3 linked regions of the Homo sapiens genome follow. The protein of the gene in region 1 purifies or fractionates together with the protein of each later gene. This does not show direct contact. Each region holds a gene or a part of one and is shown in the gene's direction. Other genes may lie near its edges.

Evidence for each region.
Region 2: the proteins of PRKD1 (region 1) and DSG2 purify together in Homo sapiens (affinity purification with mass spectrometry; one large-scale study listed by BioGRID and IntAct). This does not show direct contact.
Region 3: the proteins of PRKD1 (region 1) and MAT2B purify together in Homo sapiens (affinity purification with mass spectrometry; one large-scale study listed by BioGRID and IntAct). This does not show direct contact.

What each region holds. Positions count from the first base shown.
Region 1 is NC_000014.9:29,634,301-29,637,953, reverse strand, and holds part of PRKD1 (serine/threonine-protein kinase D1), read left to right. Parts: intron 1-1,459; coding exon 1,460-1,664; intron 1,665-3,412; coding exon 3,413-3,536; intron 3,537-3,653.
Region 2 is NC_000018.10:31,496,600-31,500,352, forward strand, and holds the start of DSG2 (desmoglein-2 preproprotein), read left to right. Parts: upstream 1-1,577; 5' UTR 1,578-1,652; coding exon 1,653-1,697; intron 1,698-3,753.
Region 3 is NC_000005.10:163,508,533-163,512,185, forward strand, and holds part of MAT2B (methionine adenosyltransferase 2 subunit beta), read left to right. Parts: intron 1-3,469; coding exon 3,470-3,653.

The sequences.
Region 1 (3,653 bases):
GCATTCTAATGGATCACTACCAAAATATTTGACTTAGAATCCCAGGTTAGCTTTTTCTGCAGATAGTGGTCTTTATACCTTTAGCCTGATACCAGTTTTCCAATTCCTCTGGAAAGGAAAATGGCTGTAAAAGATCACAGATACTTTCAGTTGAATATTTTTGTTGCTAAGAAGCTGAAGAATGACTATCTTTGCTCTAGAACTTTCTTCTCTAGAAGAAATATATACTGTACCTAAAAGAAGAAGAAGGAAGAGCTCTCCAGGAAAACATTGTCACACTTGTTTCTGGCTTGGAGATTCATGAATTAGCTGCCAAAATTGAAAGCTTGGCGATCGTCCCACTTTCTGTGGCATGTGGTGTTGACTTTGTTCAGGCTCAGGGAATGTCAGTGTGTACTGGATAACTATAACTAAGGGGATACAGAACAGTTTTTGATGTTGTTGATTACTTTGAAATTCTATTTTCTTATACATTCAGAAAAATCTGGTAAAATGTGAATTTTCCAAGCTTGGCAGGCTAGAGTCTCTCATTAATCTGTATTTTCATTTTAAAATGAGTACTTTGCATTAGTAAGTAATTTTAATTTTTGCCATTACCATCAACTGTATAATGACAGGTTCAATATTACTTCAAATATCAAATGTCTTATTTAAAAGCTGCAGCTATGTGACCAATTTAATATATTGGAATTCGTGATTTTCAAAGTTACTCCAATAGTAAGAATCAGTGGCTTGAATCTTTTTTCATGTGAAAATTTCTGTCATCCTCTTACATACTTTTTTTTCCCACCAGGGCTGTGCTTCTAAAATATGAGCAGCTTCCCAGTCACTTGGGCCTGGTATCACTTTGCCTTCTAGCATTTTACTTCTATCCCAGCTTTGGCTTCCTTCCAAGGTTTTTCATGACTTTTCATGTTTTCAGGCTTGGGAAAACGGAAAACGAGCATCTACCTATAAAATTACATGTTCAACCTCTCATAAACTCAGATGCATATAAACTGAAATAAAAAAGGAAATTGAAAATCATGGAAGGATCTGGAGGCCATTATCTTTAGCAAACTAACACAGGAACAGAAAAGCAAATACCACATGTTCTCACTTATAAGTGGGAGGTAAATGATGAGAACACATGGTCACATAGTGGGGAATAACACATACGGGGTCCCTTCAAGGTTGGAGGGTGGGAGGATCAGGAAAAATAACTAATGGGTACCAGGCTTAATACCTGGGTGATGAAATAATCTGTACAACAAACCCCCATGACACAAGTTTACCTATGTAATAAACCTGCACATATACTCCTAAACTTAAAATAAAAGTTAAAAAATAAAAAATAAACTCATCACAGAACTACCTCTTTGGGGCTTCCAATTGATTTGTTTTAGGATCACCTGACTGTCTCTTAAGCCCTGGCTCCAAGATTCCAGGCTTATCTTCATGGGTGAAAATAATTTTCTAGATTTGCTTAGCCCTGGGGCAGAGTCTGATGTGGTCATGGAAGAAGGGAGTGATGACAATGATAGTGAAAGGAACAGTGGGCTCATGGATGATATGGAAGAAGCAATGGTCCAAGATGCAGAGATGGCAATGGCAGAGTGCCAGAACGACAGTGGCGAGATGCAAGATCCAGACCCAGACCACGAGGACGCCAACAGAACCATCAGGTGAGAGCAGCACTCCCAGCCTCAGCCAACAGGGGAACCCCAGGCAGTATTTTCTCTTTAAACCTCTTTGATATTTTAATAGATTATAGTAGAAATGTGAAGTGCACGTTTACTTTTATATGAATGAACTGCGTGCTGTAAATGAGAGCCTTTGAAGTTAGGAGGTCTGGGTTCCCTGGGAGAAGTGTGGTTGCCATTCTTTCCCAGCATCACCTCATTCATTGAACTATTTTTTTTTTTTTTTTGCATGTGAGAGATGCTCATGTTTGCCATCCACAAGTTTATTACTAAGTTAATATTAATTTGAAGCTCATTGTGTAGAAACAACAAAAATCAAGATCAAACTCAGCAGAAATCATCTATTTTATTAGCTGGCCCCTGTTACAAATATCATAGTCTGTGTACACTTCACTGTTCTTGATATTATTTCAGAAGTATGTGCAATTTTATATCTGTTATTTAATTATGCTTTTGGTTACTGGATGATCCCCACTTTTTATATCAGGAGTCAGCACAATGTGGCCACCAGAGCAAATTGGACTGCTGCCCAATTTGTAGTAAAGTTTTATTGGAACATAGCCTGTCCATTCATATTGTCTGTGGCTGCTTTTGCACTATATTGGTAAAGTTAGGTCTTTTGCAAAAACTAAAATATTTATTACCTGGCCCTTTACAGAAAATGTTTCCTAGTCTCTGATTTATATTATAAAGCCTATTGAAACTTTTGTGTCCATTTTACGAATGCCATGTTTATTGACAAACAAATTGTTCATGAGAGTAGAGCAATAAAATGATTGTTTTTTTCCATTTAATGGCATAATGAACATTTTTTAAATAGTGGGAAATAATTGTCTTGTGACCTGTCTTTTGAAGACATACACTTCTTTAGTACCAAAGAGTTTGCATGGTGCCGGGGGGCAGTGGTGGGAATTACATATATATTCATGTTGTGGGAAGGGGGACAAGGAGGGAGGGATGAAGAGAGGAAGAAACAGAGACTAGCAGATTCCAATTTTTATGACATTATGCAGAGAAACTAAAAATTCATGTTGAATAATGTAATCTCTAAATGATTGATAATGTACCTATAATAGGAAATAAATAAGCAAATAAGCTTTCATGTGTGAGTCTGAATAGTGTGGCCTCAGTAGACTAAGAAGTACTCTACCTCAGGTTTACCTGAAAACTGAACACCATACAGTTCAACCCAAAATATGAGGTGCTTATTACCCAGCCTTGGGAATTTTTTTTTTTTTCAGATGGAGTCTTGCTCTGTCACCCAGGCTGGAGTGCAGTGGTACAATCTTGGCTCATTGCAACCTCTGCCTCCCGAGTTCAAGCAATTCTCTGCCTCAGCTTCCCAAGTAGCTGGGATTACAGGTGCCCGCCAACATGCCCAGCTGATTTTTTTTGTACTTTTAGTAGAGACGGGGTTTCACCATCTTGGCCAGGCTGGTCTTGAACTCCTGACCTCGTGATCCACCCGCCTCGGCCTCCCAAAGTGCTGGGATTACAGATGTGAGTCACTGCACCCGGCCAGGATTTTTTAAGGTGTACAAACAACGTGCCTATCACTCTTCAGAGTAACCCACTTTCAGAACCATGGTGCCTGACAATACGTTTTACTAAACATGAGATGTGAATTTTGTAAAGTTTCACTTGGATTAGCTGACATAAGGTTTTATGCATGAAAATACATAAAATGTACCTGAAAACATTTTTTCCCTACAATATTTTGACTTCTCAAGTCCATCAACAAGCAACAATATCCCACTCATGAGGGTAGTGCAGTCTGTCAAACACACGAAGAGGAAAAGCAGCACAGTCATGAAAGAAGGATGGATGGTCCACTACACCAGCAAGGACACGCTGGTAAGATCCACAGGGAACAATGTTCTCTTGCCTTGCTAGCTTTAATTAGAGGAGTTGCTAATGTCCCGTGAGGACTGTGAGATTTCTGCATTACTCAGAGTAAACCTCAGCACAGGC
Region 2 (3,753 bases), on another chromosome or scaffold:
TTAAATTCCTATTTGTTAGTTATTGAAACACAACAGACAATCGCAAACACAAGTTGACCTTTTTGTGTTCCTTGAGTCCAGTCGGGAAGGGCCCTTGTGACTGGGTCTCATGCCAAACAACTTGTTACGATAAGAGCTAGGGTCCCAGACCATGAGGAAACTTCATGAGAATCCTCTGTAGTCTGGTGAGTGTAGTGTCCGACTCTGGAGCCCAGGCTGTTGCTTCCCGGTGTGGTGGTGAATCCTCCACAGTCTGGTGAGTGTACCTATAAATATATCTTTTCCTTCTCCCCTTCCCATTGCAATTTGCTTATTATATCATTTGCTTATTATATCCGCGTTGCCATTTAATTGGGATAAAGGTTGTTTACCCTTAAAAGTATGGTGTGTGTGTCTTTTCTTCTCCCCTTGCGCCTTTCTCGCACAGAACAATAGGCTCGTCCATTACTTTCAGTCGTTACATTTCTTGGAAGTTTCGTAATCCGGTGCTGATTCTAGTGTTTGGATGCCCATACTAAGTTTCTGCTTTTCAAGATGTCAATTTAACATCTCACCTCGCAATCACGTTGTTCTAATTTTAACAATTATTTATTGAACCCTTAAGTTCTAGACACTGCAGAATGCTTTACCTAAGATTTTCCAATTTCGTTCTCAAAACTTCCCCGTGCGTTGGTCGCTATTAACTCCATTTGACAGATCTGGAAACTGGGGCCCAGAGAGGCTAGTCCAGGCCACTCAGCTAGTCACTCTTGGAGCGGGGCCTCTGATCTAGCTAGTGGTGTAATAGAAATTGTAAATCATTTCAAAGAATATATATATTTCCCGTAACACCCTAGAGTTTTCTCCTAGCCCAAGAATTGTCCTTTTTGACCTCTGGTGATTGTTTCTCCTTGAGCCAGATAAGCTGCAAACCTGTTGGAAGCAGTGAAGGGCCATAGGGAAGAGCAGCCTTTGGGGAGACAGCCACCTGAAATTCTGCTCCACAACCTCCGCTCCAGGAGAGCGGGCCGAACGCACCGCGGTCGCAGCTTTCCTGAGGACACGGGTCCCCATGTCACTAGCGACACCTGCGCTCCGGGCCCAAAGCACAATCACAAAGTGCGGGACCTTTGGGCGGTGCTGGGCGGCCTGGCCCCGCAGCCACTGGGCCGGTTGGTCCCGCAGGACTCTGCTCCGTGGAGCTTTTGTCCTTGGGCCGGGGCCCTGCGACCCGCGCTACCCAGGTCGAGCCCCGCCAGGAGGCTCCCTCCTCCCGCCATTCTCCAGAGAGTAGGGGGTCGGGAAGGAGAGAACGGCGGGGCGGGGCCTGCCACCCACAGTCCCCAACCCAAGGACGTCACGGTCCCAGGTGCGAGTGCGAGCGGGCGGGAGTCCACCCCGCGCCTCCCTCCTCTGCTGAACTCCCCACCTCTGTAAAAGCGGCCCGGGCCGGCCCCCGGCTCCATTTTCTCGCGGCGGCCACACCTGGAGCCGCGCCTTTGGGTTGGGCTGGGCTGGGCCGCGCAACCGCCACGGGAAGACAGCCCTCGGGGCGGGGAGGGAGAGGGTGGCCGGGCCGGGGGGAGGCCGGGGCCAGGGAGGAGCCGAGTGCGCGCTCGGGGCAGGCGGCGGCGCGGAGCGGTGCGGCGGCGGGAGGCGGAGGCGAGGGTGCGATGGCGCGGAGCCCGGGACGCGCGTACGCCCTGCTGCTTCTCCTGGTAAGTGCCGCAAGCGGGACAGGGGAGCCACCGCCGGGGAGGGCGTCGGTAGGCGAGGTCTAGACCTCGCGACCAGACTTGCCCGCCGCCCTTGTGCGCGTTACCTGCCCGGCGCTCCTTCCTGCTGCCCGAGGGGGGAAAAGGGCCGGGCAGGCTGCGGCGAGATCCGACCTGGGGCTTCGGAAAATCCTCTTGGCTGGAGCCAGGAGAGTAAGTTGCGACCTATCGAAGTTGTGTTTTCCTTCCCGCGTCACCCAGGCCCCAGCGCCCTTTTCTGTGGTGTGTGGGTGTAGTGAGCCCTGGGGCGGGGAACACCATTGCTGGGGGTCGGAGGCTTTGTTGAGAGTCTCTGGGACGAGAAACGTGGAGGCAATAGGGAACAACCTCGCGCTTCTTCCACGTTCCTTAAATTTCCCTAGGATTCCCCAGCTCCTCTAGCCGCCGACACAAGCCAGTGAACTGGGGAAACCAGGAACATACTTGTATTCTTAGAGTGCAAAAAGTTGGCTAAAAATTTTTTAAAAAGGTGTAATTTACAAAGCTTAATTTTAAGTGGATCACCCACATATAGTTTTAACTTAAAGTTTATGAAGTTGGTGTTTCAAAAGTTTTCCAATATTAAAGATAATAAACATATGTAATAGTTTGAAGCCTTATTCATTTAAAAGGTTACAGAAAATGGAAGTGTAGCGCCCCCTCCCCCACGCCCCACCCCTCACTCCCGGAAACGACGTTCAGTCCCTGGATTTAGAGTTCTTTTGCTCAAATTGGATTTTAAACTGTTGGTTTTCTGTTTGTTTAAGGGGTTGCACGTATGTATCTCGCTTATAGGGGTTTACTAAAGGGGTTTTAATAAAGTGACAGTTATGCTGCAAATATAGGTGTGAGTTCACCTTCCAGAGAGTTCACAAATATGTGTTTACAGAGATTAGATGCAAAATCATACTCAGTTTTCTTACGTAATAATTAAAAATGCAAATACATTCACTATATTCAAAGTTCTAACTTCCAAAACATGAGCCCTTCTATCCTCGAGTTTTGGTGGGATGTGGAAGAAAATCGTGTGTGTGTGTGTGTGTGTGTGTGTGTGTCTCAAAACGGAAAAAGGCGTGACTGAATCCAGTCTAGAGATTTCCATGAACTCTCAGGTGGAAGAGCATGATAATTAGGGCGTCCAGGCCTAGCACACAGTTCATTTTCATGCTCTATTTATCCATTTCATTTTCCCCGTGTCCTTGAGGTAACTTTCAATGAAAATTCATTTTGTTGACAAAACTTTTCTAAGACGTGATCTGGGACGTCGTTTTTAGCCTCTGGGCTGGCAAAACAACTAATCCTGTCACCTTGATGTTTCCTTGTTTAAGGAGAATCCCAAGCTAATGTAACACCTAGCTTACTTTGAGAGTTACATATTCTTTCCATATATGAAAATAAATGACCTTTAATCTTCAAATAATGTAGCAATCAGGCCAATTTGTACACTCACAGAGTAGCAGGTAAGCAAATTAGGCATATCTTTCATTTTAGCAATTTGATACTTTTACCTTATTGGGCAGTAATAAACATCTCCTTTAGAAAGCGACTATAGCCAATGGAACAGGAGCAAAATTCTTGGACTGTTCTATGTATTTTCTATAAAACTTTCTGCAGTATAAATTTGAATATGTTTATTTTTGTCCAGAGAGTAGTGGGCAATGCAGCATTTTACCCCCAGTGTGTTTGCAGTTGCAGTTTTTTGGTAAAAAAAAAAAAAAAAAAAAAAATGGAAAGCAACTCATCTGACAGAAGTAGTTGCCAAGGAAACAGGTCCTTTATTGGAAGGAATATAAATTGTAGTCTGTTAGATCAGAGTTCAGTTGCAAATAACGGAATTTACTCTAGCTATTTAAAGCAAGAATAGGTTTATTTCGGGGCACTAAACTGACTACCTAAGTGTAGGAAGGATTGAGAAGACTGCCATTTGAGCTGTCAGTAATGACTTCAAAGCCACACAGCAGAGCCACACCGCTTAGGGAGCTGCTGCCTCTCCTGTGACCAGGAACTGCACTGCCACTCC
Region 3 (3,653 bases), on another chromosome or scaffold:
CGGCCTCAAACTGCTATTAAAAAAACAAAAACAGCTATGATTGTATACTTATATAACACGTTAGTTTTCTTTTTTTTGGTTTTTTTGTTTGTTTGTTTTTTTGAGATGAAGTCTAGCTCGTGTCCCCCAGGCTGGAGTGCAGTTGTGCGATCTCGGCTCACTACGACCTCCGCCTCCTGGGTTCGAGCGATTCTCCTGCCTCAGCCTCCCGAGTAGCTTAGATTACCTAAAATTACCTAGAAAAAAATATGAAACAGTGTACAGTACCCAGCAGTCAGGTGTCAGTGCTCAAGATTTTTATTAAGAGTGACGATCTGAAGTGCAAGCATTTACTGAAATGGAAATGATACTGCACAACATTTTATTTGAAAATTAACATGTTATAGGCCGGGCGTACTGGAGGCCTTACATAGTAACCCAGGGGTATAAGGATATAAAGTTGCATTTTCTCATACAACTCCACTTCCTTTTTTACGTTAAGGTATTATATTCCCTAAAGAGCCTTGTTCTTCTCTATACTTAATACTGCATCAACTCCAAGAAGCTCTTAATTAAAAGAAGATCATCTGGGCTCTTAAGTTGCATTAAGTTAGCAAAAACTACTGCAAAACTGTGACGATTCATAAGATTTTTTTTAAATTCATTTAACAGATGTTAAAATGAAACTGTACTTCACAGAGTCAGTGAAGTACACAGATCTTAATTCATTGTTTAGTAACTTTTGTGGATTGTATAATGCTTTGGCTTCTATTTCAAGTTTTCTTTTTTAAGGGGGAAAGATACTGTTGTCATTTTGAGAAAGGTAGATGGCACTTTTTGTTTTCCTTGTGTAAGAGAAACGGATTGTTATGAAAGCTTTGAACTTTCCTGGAGTTCGAGAGTACACTGGTCCTCTAAGTGCGGTCTCCAAATCACGATGATCAGCATCACTTGTTGGAACTTGTTGGGAATGCAAATTATCAAGCCCCACCCCAGACCTTTGTGATCTAAAAGCCCTCCAGGTGATTCTGATCCACACTGAAGCACGAGAACCACTGACCTTAGGAACTGTTACCTGTTCCTTTGCTTCCGTAGAGTGAAGTAAAAAGTGAGGAACTCAGAAGAAACCAAATTATCTCTCTTTTAGAGTATTTTTTCAGGAATCTTTACCGTATTTATCCTGTGTAAATTGTTTTCTCTGACTGTATCTGTACTAGACTTGGCATGTTTTCTCCTCTTTACAGTTCAATCTTTGTAGAGCTGTTTTCTTGCCAAATTTCAAAGAAAATATTTTGTTGGCTGAAATCCTTGTTTTCATAGATCAGTTGGTTTAGAGCCAAGTTTTGCAACACAGCCTGAATGAAATTGCTTTCAACTTTTAAAATGTCTTGAAATTGGTTGAACTAAGGAAAAATAATCCTAAGAATTTACCTTTATACTATCTTTCCCTGTTAGTCTTTTCATTTTACGTTTTTGATTGCTAGAAATACTTGATTTTGGTGTCTTTTAAAAAAAAATGTATGTATTCGGCTAAGTAATTTAATTGAGCTAAGGGCTTTAAAAGGTCTTTGGTTATTGTATATGTATTTAAAGATTTTGACAGCCCAGAATTAGGTGATTATAACAACTCTTGAGTTAAAATAACTGGTTTGTTTTTAATAGTAAAAGTTGACTTTATTCAAGATCCTGGTTGGAAACTTGGTGTTACCCATCTTGGGAAGAAGGGACATTTTTGGAACTATGCTTGGAAACATAGAATTTAAATTTTTTCCTAAATAGTGGTTCTTTTTCATTTCTGTGTGTAATAATTTATTTGTTTCACAGTAGCAACACAGATGAGCTTAAAATATTTTTTCTTATCCTTTGCGTTTATTAGTTTTAGCTTTTTTTTTTTTTTTTTTGAGATGTAGTCTTGCTCTTGTTACCCAGGCTGGAGTGCAGTGGTGCCATCTTGGCTCATTGCAACCTCCGCCTCCTGGGTTCAAGCAATTCTCCCGCCTCGCCTCCCGAGTAGCTGGGATTACAGGCACCTGCAACCACGCCTGGCTAATTTTTTTGTATTTTTAGAAGAGATGGGGTTTCACCATGTTGGCCAGGCTGGTCTTGAACTCCTGACCTCAGGTGATCTGCCCAGCTTGGCCTCCCAAAGTGCTGCGATTACAGGCATGAACCACTGCACCTGGCCAATTTTAACTCTTCTATGTAGGTAAATTTTGGGTTAACTAAGGAACATTTACCAATTTGGTTAAACTTAGAAAGCATTTAAGTGTTGTAAGGACCAAGTTTTTTTTCCTCCTCGTATATTCCTTTGAAATGTTGATTAATTCTCTACCTTGGGTCCATCAAAATATGATAAATTATTGAGACTTGAAAGAACATTTGGGATTAAAATCTGAAGACCAGAAATGTCAGCTTGTAAATATATTGGCAGATTTGACGCAAATACTAATCAGGCCTTAAAATAGGTAAACTTAAAACACGTTTCTCTCTAGAGACTCAAAGAGCACCTTCAGTCGTATCTATAGAAGCAAGACAAATTGTAAAGTCTTATAAACTGAAGAATGTAATGTTGTTATTTACTATTTAGGTACTTGGAGCAAAAGTATAAAAAAAGTTGCTGTTTACTAACTCATTTGGGTATTATCAATCATAAAAATAGGATTTTCTGTTAACATAGGAAATATAAATCTACATAATTCCTTGCATATCATCTTGTGTTCCTTTCCTTGGGTAAGATTATTATAACTTTTTTAATTAAAAAAATTTTTTTTTTGAAACAGGGTCTCACTCTGTCCCCCAGACTGGAGTGCATGTCATGATCTCTGCTTATTACAGCCTTGGCCTCCCAGGCTCGTGATCCTCCCACCCCAGCCTCCCAAGTAGCTAGGACTACAGGCATGCACCACCTGTAGCTCAGCTAATTTTTGCTTTTTTTTTTTTTTTTTTTTTTTTGGAAGGACGGGTTTTCACCATGTTGCCTAGGCTGGTCTCGAACTCCTGGGCTCAAGTGATCCACCTGCCTTGGCCTCGCAAAGTGCTGGGATTAAAGGCATGGGCCACCATGCCTGGCAAAAGCTTTTTCTTAAGTGATACAGTTTTTTATATGGTTTGATTAATCATTGTTCTAACTTTATTTATTACATTTTTAAGTTGTGTTTTCTGCTTTTTTTATTTTAAAAATTTATTTTTATAAATACAAAGTATATTTTTACTGTTTTTTTGTATTGAGATGGGTCTCATTATGTTACCCAGGCTGGTCTCAAGTTCCTGGGCTCAGCGGAGCTGCCTGCCTCGCATTCCCAAAGTGTTGGAATTACAGGCATGAGCCTGATGCCCGACCCTAACTTAACTTTAGAATTGGCTTGCAGATATGGGACATGAGTCAAAATACGTAGAATTAAGACATTTAGGGAACAACGATGGTGCCTAATATATTTGAGAGAACTGTTTTCAAAGTTAGTAACTCTTTCTATCCGCCTTCACCTTTTAGGAGGAAGTTAACATCCCTAATAGGAGGGTTCTGGTTACTGGTGCCACTGGGCTTCTTGGCAGAGCTGTACACAAAGAATTTCAGCAGAATAATTGGCATGCAGTTGGCTGTGGTTTCAGAAGAGCAAGACCAAAATTTGAACAGGTTAATCTGTTGGATTCTAATGCAGTTCATCACATCATTC